2 separate regions of the Homo sapiens genome follow, and region 1 is linked to region 2. The links come from fine-mapping of genetic effects on gene expression. A gene starts in region 2. The other region holds a variant in brackets. All regions are shown on one strand. Distances are between the middles of the regions. Region 1 overlaps RTEL1 (regulator of telomere elongation helicase 1). Region 2 holds the start of RTEL1-TNFRSF6B (RTEL1-TNFRSF6B readthrough (NMD candidate)).

Evidence for each region. PIP is the estimated chance that this variant, and not a neighbour inherited with it, causes the effect.
Region 1: its variant is fine-mapped to the expression of RTEL1-TNFRSF6B in monocytes after Pam3CSK4 (Quach 2016, PIP 0.95).

What each region holds. Positions count from the first base shown.
Region 1 is chr20:63,681,563-63,691,946 of GRCh38, reverse strand. It overlaps RTEL1 (regulator of telomere elongation helicase 1), which reads right to left. Exons shown (of 35, transcript NM_001283009.2): 15 at 6,350-6,424; 16 at 6,075-6,156; 17 at 4,177-4,309; 18 at 3,897-4,010; 19 at 3,768-3,808; 20 at 3,561-3,646; 21 at 3,342-3,419; 22 at 2,815-2,892; 23 at 2,299-2,445; 24 at 2,082-2,197; 25 at 1,737-1,860; 26 at 1,506-1,653; 27 at 1,000-1,142; 28 at 110-205. It overlaps RTEL1-TNFRSF6B (RTEL1-TNFRSF6B readthrough (NMD candidate)), which reads right to left. Exons shown (of 38, transcript NR_037882.1): 15 at 6,350-6,424; 16 at 6,075-6,156; 17 at 4,177-4,309; 18 at 3,897-4,010; 19 at 3,768-3,808; 20 at 3,561-3,646; 21 at 3,342-3,419; 22 at 2,815-2,892; 23 at 2,299-2,445; 24 at 2,082-2,197; 25 at 1,737-1,860; 26 at 1,506-1,653; 27 at 1,000-1,142; 28 at 110-205. Among named protein-coding and RNA genes, the nearest start is that of TNFRSF6B, 9.9 kb to the left of the region's middle. RefSeq lists a cis regulatory region at 2,626 and enhancers at 2,554-2,698, 7,784-8,508, 9,235-9,959. The variant A/CA (reference allele first, on the strand shown) is at 4,987.
Region 2 is chr20:63,650,209-63,662,018 of GRCh38, reverse strand. RTEL1-TNFRSF6B (RTEL1-TNFRSF6B readthrough (NMD candidate)) reads right to left here and starts at 4,209. Exons shown (of 38, transcript NR_037882.1): 1 at 3,553-4,209; 2 at 2,515-2,786; 3 at 523-721; 4 at 76-169. RTEL1 (regulator of telomere elongation helicase 1) reads right to left here and starts at 3,707. Exons shown (of 35, transcript NM_001283009.2): 1 at 3,553-3,707; 2 at 2,515-2,786; 3 at 523-721; 4 at 76-169. The coding sequence starts at 2,616. It overlaps STMN3 (stathmin 3), which reads left to right and starts at 8,595. Exons shown (of 5, transcript NM_015894.4): 1 at 8,595-8,692. The coding sequence starts at 8,674. RefSeq lists enhancers at 3,083-3,132, 3,283-3,352, 3,473-3,632, 3,653-3,742, 3,773-4,012 and 3 more and silencers at 8,758-8,807, 8,828-8,917.

The DNA.
Region 1 (10,384 bases), 31 kb before region 2:
GGGTGGATTCCCTGGTCCCATCGGGACCAGCCGTGGCTGGGGGCACCCACGGCTGCGTTCCCATGCGTGTCTATGGTGGTCGGCACAGGTGCAGGGACAGCTCACGCACCGGGTGGCTGACCAGCCGGATCTTCTTCCTCCCTCCTCGCGGTTCTTCTGCCGGCCTCTTCTCAGACAGGAGGGACAGGGTGGAGCAGCTGTGGGCCTGAGGAGGACACAGCTCACAACCACACACAGACCCCAACCACACACTCTGGGGTCCCAAAGCACCTGGACGCACAGGGAAGATGGTCCCAAGGAGCCCTGAGCCAAGATGGAGGTCGGGGGAGGGGGGCACAGCACACCCCGGTGACAGTGCCACAACTTGGTCCTGTCCAAGTCACACCAGCGGCTCATGAGGCTCGCAGGTGGTGACTTGTAAGAGCAGGTCCAGGGAAGACAGTCCGACCACAGCGAGGGGCTGGCAGGAAGGGGACACAGGTGCCTGGTGCCTGCACCTGGAGCTCACTCCAGGGGCCTGAAGGGCAGGGATGGGCAGGAAGAGGGGAATGGCTCCCAGCAGGAAGCAGGGAGAAAATTTCGGGTTGGCCTGAGGAATTATGGGCTTCTGGGGCAAAAGGCCCCAAGGAAGAAGGAACCTGGGTTCCACCCGCAGCACATTCCTGGAGAAAGGCCAGCCTCAAGCGCAGCCAGTGGCAGGGGCACCCGACCTTGAGTGCACTGAGCCAAGCTGACCCGCCAGAGAACCAAAGTGATGTGGGGGGCACCCGCGGAGGGCCAGGGCATGCACCACCTGGGAGCCAGCAGCCTGTGGGTGAGGTGGGGTGGAGGACCCACAGACAGCCAGGCAGCTGGGATCCCCCGCCCGCTTGCCCGCCTGCCTGCCAGGCAGGGGATTTACAGGGGTGTGTGGGGAGGTGCCTGAGGCCAGATGGGCGGGGTCGGGTTGGCCTCAGGAGACAGAGGGTCTGTGTCCATCCCAAGGCCCTGGAACTGTACCTGCTCCTCGCCAGGGCTCCCCGCCCGCTGTTCGCTGTGCTCCAGGGCGGCCAGCAGCCCCCTGGGCCTCTGCCGGGCAGGAACTGGCTCCTGCTCATACTCCACACACAGGCTACTCTCGGGGTCCCCGGCAGCTGGTGACCCTGCAGGGGCACCCGAGTGCGCAGTGAAGCCCACGGGGGGCCCCAGCTGGGGTCCCTGCCTGTGGCAAAGCCCCTCTTGGGGGAGAGTCCCAGCACTTGGGGTCCTGCCTGTGGGTGTCCTCCCTGCTATTGGGGGGAGTCTCAGCCTCGGGGGGCATCCTTGCCTGGGGCGTTCTCTGCCTGTAGGGGAGGGTTGCAGCCCGTGGGGGCCCTGCCCTAGGAGGGAGAGGCAGCCTTTGGAGGTGGGAGGGGAAGCGCACAAAGCCAGGTGAGTCGCCTCCGCCCTGGGCGCCTGGTGCTGCCCGCCCCACGCCGCCCGCTCCGCCACCCCCACACCGCCCACCCAGCGCTGCCCGTCCGCACCTGAGGACCTCTGCTTCAGGCTGGGGACATGCAGGTCCAGACTCTTAGCTTTCCTGGTGGAGAAGAAGGGGCCAGGCGACTTGGCCTCGCTGACAGCATCTTCTCCACGCACACTGGGTGCTGTAGCCCGGGGGGCCGGCGCTGGCATCTGCAGAACCATGGGGGTGGGTGGACCCATTTCTGGCTCCTCTGGGGACAACACCCTCATCCCCTCCCTGGGCAGGAACTCACAGTTCGCTCGGCAACACGGAAGAACTGGGCCACGTCTCGGATGACATGGCCAAAGTTGTCATACACCCTGACGTGGGGACGCACCCAGGAGGGCAGTTGGGCTCTTGCGTCGGCAAAGGCGAACCTGGGGGGTGGCCATAGCCCTGCTGCCCTGCCCACAGCCGCTTCAAGGGTTCAGTTCACCGAAGTGAAGACCCTCATCTGCTGCAGGGGCCCCACGCTGACCCCGAGTAGCCGGAGAGGCTCTGGAGGAGACGGGGCCTCATGTGGGGAAGGAGAGTCCAGGGGCCCAGTGGGGTGTGGGCGTGTCCCCTGGCGCCGCGCCTGCCACCGGACTGCACGCACCTGTGGTCACAGAGGAAGACAGCTCCGTAGTCCTGGCGGTGCCGGATCACTCGCCCGATGGCCTGGTTCACAGCCCTGGACGCCTGCTGCCGGTACCACTCCTGCCCAGAGAGGAACTGTGGGGCGAGGCGGCTCGGTCACGGGGGCTCCCTTGGCCACGGGGCGGGGGCTCAGTCACCAGACCGCCTTACCCCAGCCCCACCCTGCTGTAACTCACCTGGCCCCCAGCCCCACCCTGGCCCTTCATCTCATCCAGGAACTGCATCTTGAGGACAACCCGGGGGTCCATGCGTGGGGGGTACGGGAGGCCCGTGACAATCACACCACGGCCATTCGTGTCTGAGAAGTCCAGCCCCTCGCTGGCCTAGGGGACACACCAGGGAGCTGCCTGGGGCCGTGGGGGCTCCTCTCCCTGGTGCCCACACCCAGCCCAGCCACCTTCCCCGAGGCTCCGTCCCCAACCAGGGGTGGGAGGAAGCTCCATCTGTGGGTCAGGACCCCACTTGGGGTCCACAGCTCCCAGACGCCACCTCCAACTCTTGTGGCCAGGAAACTCCCATCCTGCCTGCCCAGGCCCAGAGCAGGACACGCTCCCAGCAGGGCCAGCAGTCGCTCTCGTGGGACCCAAGGAGGGGACCGGGCAGCCCCCAGGGCCCAGAGTCTGCTGGGGAGCCATAAGCACCCACCAGGGAACAGGCAACCAGGTCAGGGCAGAGGGCCCTGGAGAGCTCACCTTGCCCCGGCAGACCGCCAGGAAGGTGGCGCCGGTGGACCCAGGGGCGGCAACCCTTGCATAGTAAGCACTGATGGTCTGGAAGGAAAGTTGGTGAGGCTGAGCCTGGAGCCCCCCCCCAGCCCCTTCCTCCCCCATGAGGGAGACCCAGGTCTCATGCTCCAAGATGAAGGATCGTCCTAGCCAGGAAGGCCAATCGGGTTCTGGAAGCTTCTTCCTGGCACGGATCCCAGGCTGACCCCACGCCTGCTCAGTGCTTCCCAGAAAACACGGGGAACCCCAGGGCCAGGGTGGCCGACTAGGGCTACTCAGACAGGAGGGCCACTGTTACCACACCCACCCGGTGCTGGGGGCTTTGTAAGATAAGAGGCAACACTCAGGGCCAGGAAGGAAACGCAGGAGCCCTGAAGAGGCAGCGGGAGCCGCCGGAGCCCATGGTCAGGGCCAGTGGTCAGCCTTGGGGAAGCTGTGAGAGGCAGGGGAGGCACGAGGGGGCAGCAGGCCCAGAGCCCCGGCCAAGTGCCGACCTCGGAGAAGCTGCCTTTGCTCCTGGGCTCCACAAACAGCGGCTTCAGCGCCTCCATCTTCCTGGCCAAGTCGCGGGCCTGTGGGAGGAAGAGGCAGGGACACGGCAGCCCTGGTCACGCCGCCGATCCGATGAGGGCAAGCAGGAGCTGTGACCACTGCCTGCTTCATGCTCCAGCCCTGCCCTCACCCACCCCGCCCAGAACACAGGGGAGACGCACCCGCCAGAACTCCAGGCTCTTCTCCATGACAGGATAGGAAGGGAAGAAGATCAGGAGCCCATAGGGCACCACGCGGGCGATGTTGCCTGGAAGTGCAGGGGCCGGGGTCAAGGCAGGGGCAGGATGTCTGCAGGGTTCCCTACCAGCTCTTGGGAGCAGGGGTCCAGGATCCAGGATGGGCACAGCTGGGGCATTCAGGGCACTCACCCAGAGCCTTCCCCAGGGAGGATAAGCACTCCTCGGAAAACCTAGAGCCGGAGAGGCCACTGCTCAGGACCTCAGGCCTCAGTGCTCCCCCACCTCCCACCCCAGCAGGGCCCAGGGACAGGCCCTCACCGTCTGTCAAACGCGGAGCTCAACTGGGCTCCATCGGGGCCTCTGGGGACGACCCCCACCCAGATCTGGTGCTTGTCGATGATGTGTGGGTTCTCCAGGCAGACTGGGAAAGGGCTGAGCGTGGCCAGAGGGAGCAGACAGTGGGGAAGTGCACCAGCACCCCTTTAGCCCTCGAGGCCCGAGACCCCCAGCACCCGGCTCATGGGGACCCCCACCACTTCCACCCCGCTGATGTCAGAGGTGTCACCGGTGCTCAGGCCCTGGCAGGGGTGGCCCGTACATCTGCATCTCCAGAGCAAAGGAGGACACCGGGGCCAGCGTGCCGCTGGTAAGGATGAGGGAGCGGACGCCCTGGCGGACCAGCTCGTGCATGCTGTGGCCGGGACTGAAGCACCAGTAGCTCAGCACCTTCCCTGTGGGGCGGGGGGCGGCAGAGGGCACAGAGTGTGAGGACGGGACTGGGGGCCTGACCACCTGCCTCTCTGCCCATCACCCTCTCCACCCACTGGCATCAAGCAAGCGAGCCGCGGGCAGCCACCCAGGCCCACTGTGCAGAAGTCAGAACAAAGGAGGCTGCCCTGAGTGTGAGCCTGCCAGCTTGGGGCCCCTCTGGGGGACAGGGGGTCCTGGGAGTAGGAGGCAGACCCCAGGCAGAGGCTGGGGACACCTGCAGAGAGGTCAGCCCACTCCAACCCTAAACTTCTGCAGAAACTGTGACATGCGGCTCAGGGCAAGAAGCCCACCCCGCCAAGAGCACACGGGAAGGAAGCGCCGGCATCCCGACATTCCACGGCCGCGTGCAGAAGACGGGGTGCGAGTTCCCAGCTCTGCCTGGAAGCAGGACACGTGCACAAGCCTCTGAGTGGCGTCAGCAGTGAACAAGGGCGCCAGCTCAAAGGAAGTTCCTAGAAGGGCTTGACCGACTGGCCACGGCGGCCGTGGCCTGGGGAGGAGGCTGAGTCTGGATGCCGGATGCCGGGAATTCAACACGGCACAAGCAGAACGACTCTGACTGCGATTCGGAGTCAGCAGGGACGAGGCACGTTTCCTTCCTGGGGCTGAGTGTGCCCTGCAATGGGGGAACTTCCCC[A/CA]CCCCCTCCTCCAGGAGCTCATTTCCTACAAACGCCCAGTGCAGGGAGTGGCTGCTTCTGAGAAGTCAAGTGACATCAGAGGTCAATGGAACAAACAGATTCCAGGCCCTTGGAATCTGTGCACCGGCTGCCTCAGGCACGCACTGCCTCCCGCAACCCCAACTGCGTGAGGGGCGCCGGCCTCCCCCCGGGATGGACGCTTCCTGCTGGGAGAGGCCTTGCTGCAGGACCATCACCGAGCGGGGGTCAAGCCACGCCACCCTGACGCCCTCCCAGCCCTTCCCTTCCGGCTCGGCCAGGCAGACCCAACCACAGCAACCGCACAAGGGCTGCTTCAGCCAGGGCCACGTCATGCCACCATGGGTCGGACAGCAGCTGAGAAAGAATGTTCCAGAGAGGGACGAACCAAGCCCAGAGGCAAGGCCCCACTGGAGCACAAGGCAGGGGCAGCAGCTCCCGCAGCTGCAGCCGTGAAGCCCCACCCTGGACACCACGCAGTGGGGGTGGGGCCAGATACACCCCAAGAACCACAGGGCTCCGGACACGGAGCCGAGGGCACACTCACAGACCCCATCCACACAGCGTCCCCGGCAGCACCGACTCGAAGACGCCACGGAGCACAGGAAGCCAAGAAGGCACGTGGGGCCTCGGGGCTGAGCGCACCAGGGGCTTCGGACAACAGGGCCAGCCGGGCCCCCTTCAGATGTGACCCTGAGGCTTGGCCCGGCCAGGCGCTGCGTGGAGGCAGCAGGCAGAGCCGTGCCTCACTGTGGAGGCTCTGTGCTGACGGCCTCGGCATAAACGAGCGTGTCCCAGCAGGGAGGCCTGGCTGGGCTGTGGCTCTGCCACCACCAACCAGGTGACTCTGGGCAGGTCACGGTGCCATCAGGCCATCTCCTACGTCTCTCAGTAACTCCAATCTTCAGAGGGACAGTGAGGAGAATGCTCTGGATTGGCCTGGATATGGAGAAGGTGGCCAGGCCCATGGGGGCAGGAGATCCACGGCTGGGCATGTGCCTAGCCTGTGGCATGGTGGTGCCGGGCACTGCACCCGGGCGGGCGGGGAGCGTGTGGGCCCAGGTCTGTACCTCGCTTTCTGGCTGCAGTGGTGCTCCAGGCATCAGACCGCTGAGCCGTCCTCCGGTGACCAGCATCAGGATGGATGTGCACCTGGAGGGGACAGGACCAGGAGTGTGGAGGCCCCGCCCATGTCCTGGGGGCAGCCCCTTACCTTTTAGGACCAGAAGACCCCCAGCCCCACCTGCCTCCTGGAGGTGGCCCCCACCTTATAGGACTGTAAGGCCCCCAGCCCTGCCGGGGAACAAGGGCTGCCCTCCACCTGCCTCCTGGAGGTGGCCCCTACCTTATAGGACTGTAAGGCCCCCAGCCCTGCTGGGGAACCAGGGCTGCCCTCGGAGGGGTCCACACTGAACACAATCTGAAAGGCAGAGGAAGTGCAGCCCCGTCAGGAGCCTGAGGCCACCCGACTTTCTGCAGCATCAGCCGCATACACAGAAGGTCACAGGACACCCAGGGGTCATCGGTTCACCGGCCCCTGCCATCATGCAGCCCCAGGCCAATGGACAGGAGCTGGCACCTGCCTGACCCTTTCTCCTCCCTGCAGGGACCCCCGGTGAGCTCTGTGTTCCCCCAACATAGGCCATCTCCATGCACTGAAAATGCGGCAGCCCGAGGGGCCTCTCCTCCCGCCAACTGGCCCAGCCCTCCTCTCTGTGCCCCTGAGGGCCCCAAATTAATCTAGAAATTCAACATGGCCTAGTGCAGTGGCTCAGGCCTGTAATCCCAGCACTCCGGGAGGCTGAGAGGAGCAAACTGCCCGAACCCAGGAGTTCGAGACCAGCCTGGGCAACATGGTGCAACCCCAGGGTGTTCACCAAAAAAAAAAAAAAAAAAACCTAGCCGGGCATGGTGGCATGTGCCTGTGGTCCCAGCTACTTGGGAGGTTGAGCTGAGAGGATCCCCTGAGCCCAGGAGGTTGAGGCTGCAGTGAGCTGTGATGGTCCCACTGCACTCCAGCCTGGGCAACAGAGAGACCCTGACTCAAAAAAAAAACAGGAATTCAACACATTCTAGTCAAAATCACAGTAAGATTTTTACAGGAAGTAGACACGCTGACTCCAAGATGCACTATGGAAAAAACGTCAGGGCAGGTTTCAAAAGAACAAGAGGCCGGGCGTGGTGGCTCACACCCGTAATCCCAGCACTCTGGGAGGCCAAGGTGAGAGGATCACCTGAGGTCAGGAGTTCGAGACCAGCCTGGCCAACATGGCAAAACCCCATTTCTACTAAAAATATCAGGCTGGGCACGGTGGCTCATGCCTGTAATCCCAGCACTTTGGGAGGCGGATCACGAGGTCAGGAGATCGAGACCATCCTGGCTAACACGGTGAAACCTCGTCTCTACTAAAAATACAAAAAATTAGCCAGGCGTGGTGGCAGGTGCCTATAATCCCAGGTATTTGGGAGGCTGAGGCAGGAGAATGGCGTGAACCCGGGAGGCGGAGCTTGCAGTGAGCCGAGATCGCGCCACTGCACTCCAGCCTGGGCAACAAGAGCAAAACTCTGTCTCAAAAACAAACAAAAAGAAATTGGTTCAGGCCAACACCAGGACTTACGACAAAACCACAGTGAACAAAAACATGAGGAAAAGTGTGGCAGGTGCCCAGTGGAGTTGGGGGAAGCCGAGCCGCTCGGTCAGCGCACAGAACCACCGGTGTGGCGTGCTGGGAAAAATCAAGGTAGAGTCTGCCTTTCACACCCCCACAGGTGACGTCAGAAGGCATGGAGGCCCAGACACAAAGCTCCGTCACTCTACAGTGCAGTTTGGAGAATACACAAGACCCGGTTTAGCATCTTGGTCGGGAGGCACAAGCTCAGAACAAAAATCTGACAAGGAAACATGTGTTCACCAAACCTGTCATGAAAATGGAAAAAATGACCAGCATGAGACAAGGAAAGAATATGTATGTCGGCATGGGATCCTCAGAACTTAGAGAGAGAATATGTATATGGGATCCTCAGAACTTAGAGAGAGAATATGTATATGGGATCCTCAGAACTTACAGAGAGTATATGTATATGGGATCCTCAGAACTTACAGAGAACCCTGCAAATCAATGGGAAAGGAATGATGCCTGCACTAGGAGAGGAGCGCGTGACGACCGTTCCTGGAAAACGAGCCAAAAACGGCCAGAACAGGAACGCAAAGCCCCCAACAGGCTCAGCAATGTGGCCATGTCAGCCAAGCCACCGCCGTCAGAGCCCCGCCGCAGACTTGAGGGAGTTCTGCTGGGAACACCAAGAAGCCGGAATCATTCACAGAAATGCGGAGAAGCCGAACTAGAGAACACCGGGGGGCAGACACCACGGCTGGAACACAGAGACTTGGCAACATGCGTGGATTTGTGCAGGCGTGCGTGCGTGTGTGCGTACTCTGCATGCATGTGCACGTGCCTGGGTACGCACAGAAGGAGAGAGAAATTTCCTTCCGTTCCTTCCTTCCTTCCCAGCCATTTTCACTGTCAAGACAGCTAAACACAGGGCCTTGTGTTTTACCAAAGCATTTGGCCCACGGGGATGGAAGTAACAGAACAAGTTCACCCCCACGCTGGTGGCTGCCATGAGCAGGGCTGAGTCTGCCTCAGGAAACAGCTTCCTTCGAAAAGCCTTCTGCTGGGCAGGCATGGAAGCTCTTGCCTGTAATCCCAGCACTTTGGGAGGCCAAGGCGGGCAGACTGCCTGAGCCCAGGAGTTTGAGACCAGCCTGGGAAACATGGCAAGACCTCATCTCTACAAAAAAATTTTAAAAATTAGCTGAGTGCGGTGGTGCACACCTGTGTTCACAGCTCCTCGGGTGGCTGAGGCAAGAGGATCACTTGGGCCCAGGAGGTTGAGGCTGCAGTGAGCTGTGATCAAGCCCCTGCACTCCAGCCGGGGTGACAAAGCGAGACCCTTTCTCAAAAAAACACCACCACAAATCCCCCTGTGCCTCAGCCCAGGGCAGCTCCGGCCTCAGGCAGAGAGGGATGAGGACCCAGCAGTCTCACGGGGGCCCAGGGGCAACTGGTTCCCCAACACGGGCCAGCACTGCCCAGAGTTTGCCTCCAGCTAAGCCCTGACTTCCGAGCACACGGCCTGACCCTGCCTGGAGTTCGCCTCCAGCTGAGCTGTGCATCCCACATCCTCTTCCTGGGGCCACTGGCCCCACTCTGCCCCCAGGGTCACCTGTGACTCAGGGCTGCAGGCCCAACCCAGCACCAGCCCTATGGGCACCGCCCACACCTGCAGGGGCTCAGGAGCCAACGCGGGTGAGCACTGTGTGCAGTCCCTCATCCTCCAGGCACCCGAGGGCTGGCAGAAGCTGAGTCATCCACCAGCGGCTACTTAGAGCAGCAGCCAAAGGAAATTCCAAACCGATGGAGTGTGCAGGATTCGGTTCCAGAGTGTGGAGTCTTCTCCTTAAGTGGGGGCCTGGGAGGCCACGTTCCAGGATCCGGTTCCAGAGTGTGGAGACTTCTCCTTAAGTGGGAGGCTGGGAGGCCGCGTTCCAGGATCCGGTTCCAGAGTGTGGAGTCTTCTCCATAGCTGGGGGCCTGGGAGGCCGCGTTCCAGGATTCGGTTCCAGAGTGTGGAGTCTTCTCCATAGCTGGGGGCCTGGGAGGCCGCGTTCCAGGATTCGGTTCCAGAGTGTGGAGTCTTCTCCATAGCTGGAAGCCTTGGAAGCCGCATTCCAGGATTCAGTTCGAGTGTAGGAACCTCAGAAGCCACATTCTAGGATTCAGTTCCATAGTGTGGAGGAGACTTCTCCATAAGTGGGAGCCTGGGAAGCTGTATTCCAGGGAGGGACAGGCCCGGGCCAGCTCACACCTGCCCTCCAGGCCCTGGGCTGCAGGGCTACCTCGCCTGGCCATGTGCTGGAGGTGCTTTGCAGTGACCCATCAGGGACATGGAAGCAGGTCCGCCTGATAGGTGCACGGCCTCCTGCTTGAAGAGCCAACCACACTCCATGCGGGACAGCACAGCAGCCCTTGGCAGGCAGGAGCCACAGACAGAGGGGTCTGGGCCTGGGATGCCCACCGTGCCTTTGGGGAGGAGTTGGGAGGACAAGGCAGTGCTGTCCTTCCAGCCCCAGCTACCGCACAGAGAAGACACAGGCTGTGGCGTCACTGGCCACAGAGACGGCCACAGTGGAGGGAGGGCTGAGCCTGGGCCCCACCACCCTGTGCCCACCCCACCTGGTCCCTGCCCAGGTCTCGCCCCCGCTCAGAGCTGCGTCTGTGAAGGAGAAGGCAGTGCCTGCTTGTTCCGGGATCTGCAGCTCCATGCCCAGCAGCATGCACAGGCCAGCCATGCATCCCAGGGTTCTTCTGCGGCCTCC
Region 2 (11,810 bases):
GGGCTGTGGACTCAGCACCATGCCAAGCTGGTTCTCTTGAGGACCCCGAGACAGGTGTAAACTCGTCTGACCCACCGGTAGGAGGTGTTCCGAAGCTCGTTGATGACCTGTGTGAGTTGCGAGTGGGTCCTGGAGGCGTAAATAATCTTTGGGATGTCCGTGTAGCAAGCTGACCAGACACAAGCAAGCACAGAAGTCACGGTTCTCAGACAACGTTCTCACGTATCAAAGGCAGGTGGCATTCGGCTAACTCGGCCCTGCAGACAGCCAAGAATCTGACACCCCAGATACTGGTTTATCAAAAATGGGTGAAGTGGGCATCTGCCGTGCCCTAATTCAGCAAAAAAGCCCAACCCTAGGTTTACACCCACGATGGCGAGAAATTATACAGCAGCTAAAAAATTCTCCTTGAGTTCTGCTTGAGAGACGGCAGGAGTCCCCATGGGCCCACCCCACCCTCAGCGCCATCCCTTGCCAACCATCCCCACAGGAGGCCAGGAGAGGCCTGGGAACTAGGGTCACCTATGGGGTCTCCAGCAGCAGCAGCAGCGTTGCCCCAGGATGACAAGGCCCGATCCGGGAAAAGCTCTCCTTGCGCCCTCTCGGCAATCTTGCGGGCAGAGATGCCGTCTCGGAGGTGTTCTCGCCAGGCCAGCGTGGTGCACAGCAGGCACAGCGTCTTCCCTGTACCCGTAGGGCTCTCCAGGATGCCATTCACCTTCTGAACGGAGTTCGGAGCAAGGGTTACGGGGAAGCCAGGAAGAGGCGAGGCCACACAAGCTGCCCTGAGACAAGCTTCGGCAGCCAGCGGGCAGCTCTTTGCAGATGCAGAGGCCACTGCCAGGTGGCGAGAGCCCTGTGGGACCGCGGAGAAGTCCACAGGCAAGTCCCACTCTTGCCCTAAAGGGCGTGAAGCAACTCAGCCGCCATTAGCAAACGATTTGCAGAACGTTACCCAAAACACGACACTATTTTTCAGCTTAAATAGTAAGATGACTAATTAGGTGTCAAGTCTCAAAATAGGAAACTGTTCTGCGTTTCTGGATCCAAACATTTATGCTGTCCTATCTGACGTCCTACATACAAGCTCTCAGACGGGAACCTGAGCAGGAAACTCGGGGAGGGGAAGGGTGTGAGCCGGGTACAAGAGGGCACCTCAAGGAACCCAGGAGAAGGCAACCTGCACCACTGCCACCTCCCTGCACCCCCGAGGTTCAAAGACCTTCCAAGTGAGGCTGGCCACCGGCTGCCCCTCTAATGGAAATGCTTCCTCCTGACCCGTGAATATCAGCTGCTCCTCAGAGAGGCCCCCAAGGCACTCCTAAGTCTGTCACCCTCAAGGACTGTAGGGAAAAGAGAGATCAGACTGTTACTGTGTCTATGTAGAAAGGGAAGACATAACACACTCCATTTTGACCTGTACCCTGAACAATTGCTTTGCCCTAAGATGCTGTTAATCTGTAACTTTGCCCCAGCCTTGAGCTCACAGAAACATGTGTTGTATGGAATCAAGGTTTAAGGGATCTAGAGCTGTGCAGAACGTGCCTTGTTAACAATATGTTTACAGGCAGTATGCTTGGTAAAAGTCATCGCCATTCTCCAGTCTCGATAAACCAGGGGCACGATGCACTGCGGAAAGCCGCAGGGACCTCTGCCCTGGAAAGCCGGGTATTGCCCAAGGTTTCTCTCCATGTGATAGTCTGAAATATGGCCTCGTGGGATGGGAAAGACCTGACAGTCCCCCAGCCCAACACCCGTGAAGGGTCTGTGCTGAGGATTAGTAAAAGAGGAAAGCCTCTTGCAGTCGAGATAGAGGAAGGCCACTGTCTCCTGCCTGCCCCTGGGAACTGAATGTTTCGGTATAAAACCCGATTGTACATTTGTTCAATTCTGAGATAGGAGAAAAGCCGCCCTGTGGCAGGAGGCGAGACATATTGGCAGCAATGCTGCTCTGTTACTCTTTACTCCACCGAGATGTTTGGGTGGAGAAAAGCATAAAACTAGCCTACGTGCACATCCAGGCATAGTACCTTCCCTTGAACTTATTTGTGACCCAGATTCCTTTGCTCACGTTTTCTTGCTGACCTTCTCCCCACTATCACCTTGCTGTCCTGCCGCATTCCTCTTGCTGAGATAGTGAAAATAGTAATTAATGAATACTGAGGAAACTCAGAGACTGGTGCCGGTGCAGGTCCTCTGTATGCTGAGCGCCGGTCCCCTGGGCCCACTTTTCTCTCTATACTTTGTCTCTGTGTCTTATTCATTTTCTCAGTCTCTCGTCCCGCCTGATGAGAAATACCCACAGGTGTGGAGGGGCCGGCCCCCTTCAAAGGACGATCGTTTTTACTTGTCAATCCTCTCTCTGACCCCACCTGGAACACCAGCCCTTTTTATGACAGACGCTGCCTCTGGCCCGGAGGGGCCTGGCTGGAATGGGCCGGGAGAGGGAAGCACACCCCGTCCTGGCTGAAGCTCCACCCACCCGCAGTCCTTTCCTCGGGGCCTGTGCTCTACCTGCTGCAGACATTCCAGGACCTTGGTCATGTACTCCTGTTGGCATTTGTAGGGCTGGAAAGGGAAGTCTACGGTCACACCATTCAGGACTATCTTGGGCATATCAGCCTGTTCTCAGAAGGGCACAGAGCGTGGCTGAGGGGCAGGCTATTCGGGTCTGTGCGAAAAAACCACTCCGAACATCTTAGGGTCTCGGGCACTCCTGGTAAGCGATGCGAGCATGTGCACTGGGACACAACGCTGTTCTCTTCGAGAATCCCTATGGCACAGACCTGGGAAAGACAGTAAGACTCTGTTTGTAGACAGCCTTTGTGGGTACCGGGCTACTTTCCCAGGCGTTTCCATCAGTCCCTCCTGCGGAGAGGGTTGGAGAGCAACCCTGGTATATCCCATCTCGAGGAGCTGGCGGGGCGAAGATGCGAAGTGGCTGGGCCTTGCCTTATCCTCCCGCCCCACAACTCCGTCCTTCTCTGGAAAAGACGCCCACAGTGCTGCAAGTTCCGCCTGCAGTAATTCCGCGACTTCCACAAGAGCGTGAGGGCTGAAGAGGCAAGCGGCACCCCTCCCGGCCTCACCAGGCGCAACGTCAGAGCGGAGGGTCTGAACCTCCGGCCCTGCCTCTCCAGCCCTCTGCCCTCCTGGCTGGCTGGAGTCCATTCCCCATCCGCCCGGGTGGGCAACCAGATGCAGCCAAAGTAGCGAAAGAGCATGCCGGGATGCCAACCCGTGCAGCCCTCAGCAAATCACTCAACTTCTCTAAGCCTCAATCCCGCCCGGGAACTGGGACTAACAGAACAGACGCGGACACACTGAATGTCGGCCCTTCCCTCCAGCCCCGGTCAAGGGCTCAGCCAACGCCGCGGCGCCAGCGCCACGAGCGCAGGAAACTACAGGTCCCAAAATGCAGCGCGGCCAATCCGCCGACCCGCGGCCCCGAGGGCGGCTTGGGGCCTGCCGGGAGCTGTAGTTTCGAAAAACCGCAACGCGCCTACGAGCCGCTCGGGTAAAAGAACCACTTGTAGGGTCACTGCGACTCACTGCTCACTTGTCTCCGCGGCGAACCTTCCAGAACCGGGGTCCCTCAGGAACTCAACCGACTCCAGTCGAGGGCCGCCACCCGTCCCCAGCTGTCAGCCAGCTCAGAGTTTTCGCGGGCAGAGGCGCGCAGTCGGCGCTGAGCCCACTGCACTTCCGCCCCCCACTTCCGGTCCGTTGCTTTGTGCTCCCGGCGGAAACTGTTCCCCCGCGGAGGGGGTCCGCCTGCTCTTCGGCTCCTCCAGGCCTACACGGCGTTTTGCGCGTTCTGTGTCCGGCTCCGCTGGCCAGTGAACCTCACTTCCATCGCCCACAGGCAGAAATCTGGGGTCCCGCCCGTCTCCTCCCTTGATGTCATTCCCCCACCAGGGTCTGCGTTCCACTACCGCCTCTCTAGGCCGAGCCACCACCATTGCCCGGAGAGCTGCACGGGCCTCCTCCCCAGAGGCATCTTTTTACTGCTCGAGTGTGAGCCGACCGCTTTCCTGAAAATTTGAAAACGGCTGCGCCTTGCCCAGGACCCGGCTCCTGAGAGCCCTGACCGCCCCCTCTCCTTCCTCTCCTGCGTTCCAGCTTCTGCTCGGCTCACTGTCCCGCAGTGGTCCCGGCGGGCCTCCCTGAGTCCCCAGCACCCGGCACTGGCTGGCAGCAGGGCTGACTCCAAGAGCGAGGCCCGCACCGTTCTGTGGGGTCAGCCCAGCGTCACGGATGTTTGTCTCAGGCGGCCCCAGCTCCCATGCCCCAGAAGGCCCCAGAAGGCCCCAGGAGGGAGTTGGCGCTGCGTGACCGCGCACGGCCGGCAGGCAGCACTTCTTCGTGGCTTCTTCATGGCTGTGTTTAATGTCCACTGACGGCACATGCGAATGCCATGCGTGCCCACGCTCCTGGGTGTGAGATAGTGCTCGGAGAAGCCCCAGCACTCACTGGCACCCAGCCCCATGTGCCTGTTGTGGTGAAGGAACTGCAGGCTGCCTATCTGAGACTCGGCAGGGAGTTGAAGATGAGGAGACCAGCCACACACACTCGTTGAATGAATGGGCACCAAGCACAAGTTTCAGTGCCCCCCATACATGCTGATATGGTTCGGCTCTGTGTCTCCACCCAAGTCTCACCTCGAATTGTAATCCCCACGTGTGGAGGGAGGGACCTGGAGGGAGGTGGTTGGATCATGCGGTCAGTTTCCTCCAGGCTGTTCTGACAGTGAGTGCTCAGGAGACCCGATGGTTTAAAAGTGGCAGTTTCCCCTTCTCTCTCTCTTTCTCCTGCCGCCATGTACGACCTGGGAACTGGGACTAACATAGACTTCACCTTCTGCCATGATTCTTTTTTCTTTGAGACAGAGTTTTGGCTTTTTGCCCAGGCTGGAGTGCAGTGGCACAATCTTGGCTCACTGCAACCTCCACCTCCTGGGTTCAAGTGATTCTCCTGCCTCAGCCTCTCAAGTAGCTGGGATTACAGGTGTGCACCACTAAGCCCGGCTAATTTTTTATATTTTTAGTAGAGATGGAGTTTGACCGTGTTGGCCAGGCAGGTCTTGAACTCCTGACCTCAGGTGATCCACCCGCCTCGGCCTCCCAAAGTGCTGGGATTACAGGCGTGAGCCACCGCGCCCAGCCAGATAAGTCCTCTCATTGTCCACACTTTCTGGGTGAGAAAGTGAGGCACAGAGCGTTGAGCAGATTGCCCAGAGCCTGCTCAGGAGCCAGGAGTTTACCTTTTGCAGCCACACATCTCATCTCCTGAGAGCAGTGGCCAGAAAAGGCTGTCCTGTGGACTGAGCTGAAGTCTGAGTCATCTGCTCCTTGCCAGCTGCTATAGGAGCGTGCTGGCCTGGGGTGGTCAGGAACTCCTGTACCCCTGCCCTCTTCCTCTAATTGCTGACGTACCCACAGCTCCAGCATACAGCAGGTGCTTGACAGATGTCTGTTGAATGACTGAGTGTCCTGCTGAGATATAGGGCTCCTTCTAGGAGCCAGAGTTAATTTCTTTCTTTCTTTTTTTTTTTTGAGACAGAGTCTTGCTCTGTCGCCCAGGCTGGAATAGAGTGGTGCGATCTCGGCTCCCTGCAACCTCCACCTCCTGGGTTCAAGCGATTCTCCTGCCTCAGCCTCCTGAGTAGCTGGGATTACAGGTGCATGCCACCACGCCCGGCTAATTTTTGTATTTTTAGTAGAGATGGGGTTTCATCATGTTGGTCAGGCTGGTCTTGAACTCCTGACCTCGTGATCTGCCCACCTCAGCCTCCCAAAGTGTTAAGATTACAGGTGTGGGCCACCACGCCCAGCCAAGCCAGAGTTAATTTCAAGAATGCAGAGGTCTGATAAAAGTCACACTTTATGAAAAACATTTTTTTTTTTGAGGTGGAGTCTTGATATTGTTGCCCAGGCTGGAGTGCAGTGGTGGGATCTCGGCTCACTGCAACCTCTGCCTCCTGGATTCAAGTGATTCTCCTGCTTCAGCCTCCAAAGTAGCTGAGATTACAGGCACCTGCCACCACACCTGGCTAATTTTTGTATTTTTAGGGTAGATGGGGTTTCACCATGTTGGCCAGGCTGGTCTCAAACTCCTGACCTCAGGTGATCTGCCCACCTCGGCCCCCCAAAGTGTTGGGATTACAGTTGTGAGCCACTGCACCCAGTCAAAACATTTTTTTAACTAGCACTAATGTGCATGTGAAAAACATCTTTGAAATGCTCGTGCACTTTCTGCATTTGATCTTGGTGAGAAGTCAAAATCTGCTCCAAGACCTGGCACTATATTGGGGCAAACAGTCAGTACAGCTATTGTGTGCCTGCCAGCATGCTGTCATTACTCCTATTGCGTGTGCCTGCCAGTGCACTGAGAGTCAGTACACCTATGGCATGTGCCTGCTAGTGTGCTGTCAGTACAGCTGTTGTGTATGCCTGCTAGCACGCTGACAGTCAGTATGGCTGACAGTCAGTACCCCATTGCGTGTGCCTGCCTAGGTGCTGACAGTCAGTACCCCTGTTGTGTGTTCCTGCTAGTGCACACTGTGCACATCTACTGTGTTCCTGGCACTATGCCACGGGCTTCCACACACCTGGTCCCTGTGCTCCAGATGAGGACACAGAGGCTCAGAGAGGGCCTGGCCAGAGTCACAATGAGTGTGAGGCATTGCGGTGCTCTGAGCCTGACTGGGTGGGTCCTACCCCACCCACATGAGAAGACTCTGGAGGTCCCAGAGAGGGCTACTTCTCTTGATCCCTAGCACCTGAGCTCCAGCACCCGGGGCTGGAGTCTGCCTGAAGGATGCTGACCATCCCCAACTGCTACTGTGGTGGCCAACAGGGAGGACACAGCTGCTGTGGTGGGCAGCTCTGTGTGCCTCTCTGCCCTTCTTCCTCCTTCGCAGAGCTGGCTTCCTAGGAATGGCCCAGGGGCCAACACCTCTGTGTGTATATTAGTTTGATATGGCTTCATAGCAAATCACCACAAAACCAACAGCTTAAAACAACTCTCATTCATTACCTCCTAATTCTTAGTAACCCAAGGCTGAAACCAAGTGGGCAGTTGGGCTCAGTTCTTGTGTGGAGGCCCTGGGGTCAAACCTGCCTCCAAGCCCATTCTCTTCTTGTTGGCAGAACTCACTTCCTTGCAGTTAAGGTCTTGTTGTCTTGCTGGCTGTTGGCTGGGAGCAGTTCTCAGATCCTTGCCACGTGGCCCCCTCATCTCAACAACAGAAAACCTTCTTTGGTTTGATCCCTCCGATTTCTTCAACCAGGCAAAGGAAACTGCTTTTAAAGGGCTCCTGTGATGAGGTCAGGGCCCGCCTGGTGATCCTCCAGTCTTAAGGGTACCTCTGGGCCACACAATGTCACATTCCTGGGCATCACCCCCACCAGACTCACAGTCCCGGGGATGATGCCGGCTTGCACGTCAGGGGTCAGGACTCTCCAGGCCACCCTAGGATGTGACTGGCCTTGGGTGCTCCCACCGCACTGCTAGAGCTGAGGCTTGCCCCTGGCTTTTGTGTTGCTGAGCCAGCCTCATGGCTCTGCAAGTCTCCTGAGGTTTTCAGGGTTTTGCTCCTGGCCCTATGACTTAGTTGCTTGTAGGGCAAAGCACTTTTCTCCCTGCCTCGGTGGCTTCATCCCTGCAATGGCAAAGACGCTCCGTTTGCCTACCAGGCTTTCCCTTTGGGAGTTATGAGGAGAGGGGGAGGCAGGATAGGTTGCCCCCCACTCACTAAGTGCGCACAACCCTGGCACCCCTCCTCTCCATCGTCTGGGGGCATCATTGTTTCATCTTACCCCTGAGAAACAAAGGCCCAGCGAGGTCAGACGCTTGCCCTTGGCCTGGGCCACACAGTGAGTGAAGGTCTGAGCCCAGGCGGGAAACCACCTCTTTCACGGCAAAGCCTTTGTTCTGGCCTCACTCCTCCACTTTCACTCTTCTCCGCTCAGATCCTGCCCATCCCCTGGGCTCACAGGAGATGCCCCTTGGAGGCCTCCAGGCCAGCGCCCACCCCTGTGGCTGTGGCATCCTCTCCGATGGCAGGCACAGACCTGGACCCTGTTGGCGCCAGCCCAGCCTACAGCGGCCTTGGCGGCGAAGAGCTCTGCGGCCCCACCCCATGGGTGGGACCTGCTCCTCCGGCATTGCCCCTGCCCCGCCTGCCCTGGGGAATGGGGGCTCATCTCCACCCCCACCCCACTCTCAGGCCTCACAAAGCCAAGTTGGAGAAGCAGCTGTCCCGCTGTGAGCGGTTGGAGGGTGGGGGGTCTTGTTGCAGTTCGGGTAGCCCCCCTCCTCCGCCCTCTCCCCCTGAGAGCCGCGGCCCCTTCCGCAGCCAGGCGCTTGCTCCTCTCTCTCTTCCTCCCTCCCTTCCTCCCTCCCTCCTTCCCCCGCCCCCGCAGTCTCTCTCTCTCTCTCTCTCCTTCCCCCAACCCTCCCTCCCTCCTCCCCCCGCTCCTTCCCCCAACCCTCTCTCTCTCTCCCTCTGTCTCCCTCCCTCTCTCTCTCCCGCCGCGCCCGCCTCCCGCCCGCCCTCGCTCCCTCCACTCCTCTCCCCTCCCCTCCCCGGCACTGCAGCACCAGCCGTCTGCAGCTCCGGCCGCCACTTGCGCCTCTCCAGCCTCCGCAGGCCCAACCGCCGCCAGCACCATGGCCAGCACCATTTCCGGTAGGCTCCGGGGCCACGGGCTTTGTGGGGCGGCGGGATCTGAGCAGAGGCCTCGTCTGGCCTCGCCTGGGGCAGCGGCCGGCAGCGGACGCCAATTTCCCTTCTCCTACCCTGCGCGTTGCAAGCCTGGGCCCGACCCGCCCGAGGCTGGGGTCTGCGGCGCCGGCGGGGCTGGTGGGGCGCTGGGCTGCGAGGCGCCGCGCCGGGGAGCGCTCGGGACCGGGACGTCGGGCGGGGGCGCCTCGCCCCTGGGGGAGCAGCGTGCCACGCAGGGCGCGACTGCCGCAGGGTGGCTCCCAGACCCGGGCGTGGGCTCGCGACCGGGTGGGCGCGCTCGCGATGTGCGGGCGGGGTCCCTGGGGCGTCCGGCGACCCGAGATCTGGGTCCGCCAGAGCCTTCGTGGGGAGGCGGGGAGAGGGTGGGACCCTCTGCCAAAGCCCCAGCCGGGAACCCGGCGCTCCCCGCGCCAGTGCAGCACAGGGGCTGGAGGGGGCGCTGAAGGAGGGGGGCGGGCCAGACACGGCGGAGCCCGGAGTGAGGGGGACCGCGCCCTCCCCCCACACCGCTGCGGCCTCGGGGACCACCCTTTGCGACGCCCGCGCCACCTGCTCTGGCCAGAAAAGCCACTGCCCTTTGCGCCGCGGGGTCTGGATGGGGGAGGGGCGACTGCGATCCCCAAACCCTCCGGAGACCAGAGGGCTCCGCCCCTCCCGCCCCTCCACCTCCCGCGGGGCGGACCCACCGCCTTCGAAGGTAGCGCCCACCCCGGCCTCCCGGCCCGTCCCGCGCGGAGCTCAGGCGGAGGGGCGGGCGCAGGCCCGGGCGGGGGGCGGATTCTGGACGCAGGGGAGCTGCCGGGCGACCTCGGGCGCGAGGACGCTGGGCCCGCCCTTCCCGAAACGCTCTGCTCCGCCGCGAGGCCGCAGAACCCGCTTCGTTTTTCACTCGACGTTTGGGAGGACAGGACGAAGGGCCGCACCTCCTTCCCATCGCCGCCCCCGTTCACGAGCCGCACTCCCTCCCACCTTTTCTTACGCCCCCGGGACAGGTCGCCGCGGTCCCTCTCCCGAGCTGACTGGTTCAACTCGGGCGCCTTGGCCCGGGGCGCAGAACTCCGCCCACCCACGCGTGCCCGACCTGACCCCGCCCCTCAGGCCCCACGGGCTTGGAGGCTCCAGGTGACTTCAGCACCTGCCAGGAGGGGACCGTGTGTGTCACCGGCCACACCTCCCCACCCTATCTGGGAGTCCTGTCCATCTGCGCTTCCTCCCTCCGCCTCCTCCTGGACACCCCCGGGGATACTGGGGGTGGGGGGGCTCTCAGCGGAGGGGACTCCCCTCCTGCCCCTGAGGGCAGCGCCGTCCTCTCCAGGGCCGCCTCCTGCCCTTCCTGACAGCCTTTCCCTGACGGTCCCTCCCCATGGGCTCGGTTCCTGGGGCTGAGCTGGGAGGGCGAGGGCATCTCGGCATCTGGGCACTGGCTCCTCGCTCTTTTGTGGCCTCTGCTCACATTCTCCTTCTGCAACCCAGAGTCTGACCTCCTCCAGCTGTGTGGTGTTGTCCGAGCTGCCTAACCTCTCAGGACCTGGGTCTCCTTATCTGGGTAGAGATGACGGTGCTGGCACCTCTCCTGGGGCTTGTTCTGAGGCCTCAATATTTCAGGAAAGGTGCTTGGCCGCTTGCCTGCTAAGAGATGAGTGCTCACCGCACGTCAAGCAGCCTGACTGTGGTAGCCACATTTCTGAGTTTCCTGCCCAGGGAAAGGCAAATCGGCTGGTGGCTCCTGCCATGCTGTGCTCCTGGCACCATGAGAAGCAGCCTGGGTGACAGTGACCTCCATCTGCCCCCGGGGGGAGCCGGCAGCAGCCTCCAGGGCCCTCCAGGGGTCAGAGGCCACTGTGGTCCCCTGGCCTCTCAGTTCTGGACAGATCCCCCACCTCCGCGAGCTCCCAACAGGAGCCTGCAGTCAGGCCCAGGCTCATGACTGGGCTCTCACCCGGCACTCTGTGTGATGCTGGGTGGAATGCTTGCCCTCTCTGAGCCTTCATTCCTCCTCTGTAGAAGTGAGGCAGATAGGGTGGCTCATGCCTGTAATCCCAGCACTTTGAGAGGCTGAGGCCGGTGGATAAACTGAGGTCAAGAGTTCGAGACTAGCCTGGCCAACATGGTGAAATCCCCCCTCTCTGCTAAAAGTACAAAATTAGCCAGGTGTGGTGACACACTCCTGTGATCCCAGCAATCTGGGAGACTGAGGCAGGATAATTGCTTGACCCGGGGAGAGGGAGGTTGCAGTGAGCTGAGATTGTGCCATTGCACTCCAGCCTGGGCAGCAAGAGTAGAAACTCTTTCTAAAAAAAAAAAAAAAGAAGAAAGAAGAGGAGGAAGACGAAGAAGACGAAAGAGAAGGAGAAGGAGAGCTGATAAGGGCATCCACCCGGGTGGGCGGGAGGGGTGGGTGTGAGGTGTGACCCTGGGAGTGGGCACCATCCACCTGGGCGGCGGGAGGGGTGGGCGTGAGGTGTGACCCTGGGAGTGGGCACCATCCACCTGGACGGCGGGAGGGGTGGGCGTGAGGTGTGACCCTGGGAGCGGGCACCATCCACCCGGGCGGGCGGGAGGGGTGGGCGTGAGGTGTGACCCTGGGAGCGGGCACCATCCACCCGGGTGGGCGTCAGGTGTGACCCTGGGAGCGGGCACCATCCACCCGGGTGGGTGGGAGGGGCGGGCGTGAGGTGTGACCCTGGGAGTGGGCACCATCCACCTGGGCGACGGGAGGGGTGGGCGTGAGGTGTGACCCTGGGAGTGGGCACCATCCACCTGGACGGCGGGAGGGGTGGGCGTGAGGTGTGACCCTGGGAGTGGGCACCATCCACCTGGACGGCGGGAGGGGTGGGCGTGAGGTGTGACCCTGGGAGCGGGCACTACTATACCCTGCTGCTTGAGGCCAACCTGGTGCCTTTTTCTGACTCCTGCTCATGAATCATCCAAAGGCCAATCCGCATTTCCTCGGTATCTAATGTTTAGTACAAAGAGAAGCAGGGAGACAAAACAAGCCCAGCTCACTGCGAGAATTGTTTTTAACTCCCTGAAGTCAGTGAAGGGGAAGGATGGTGGGGAG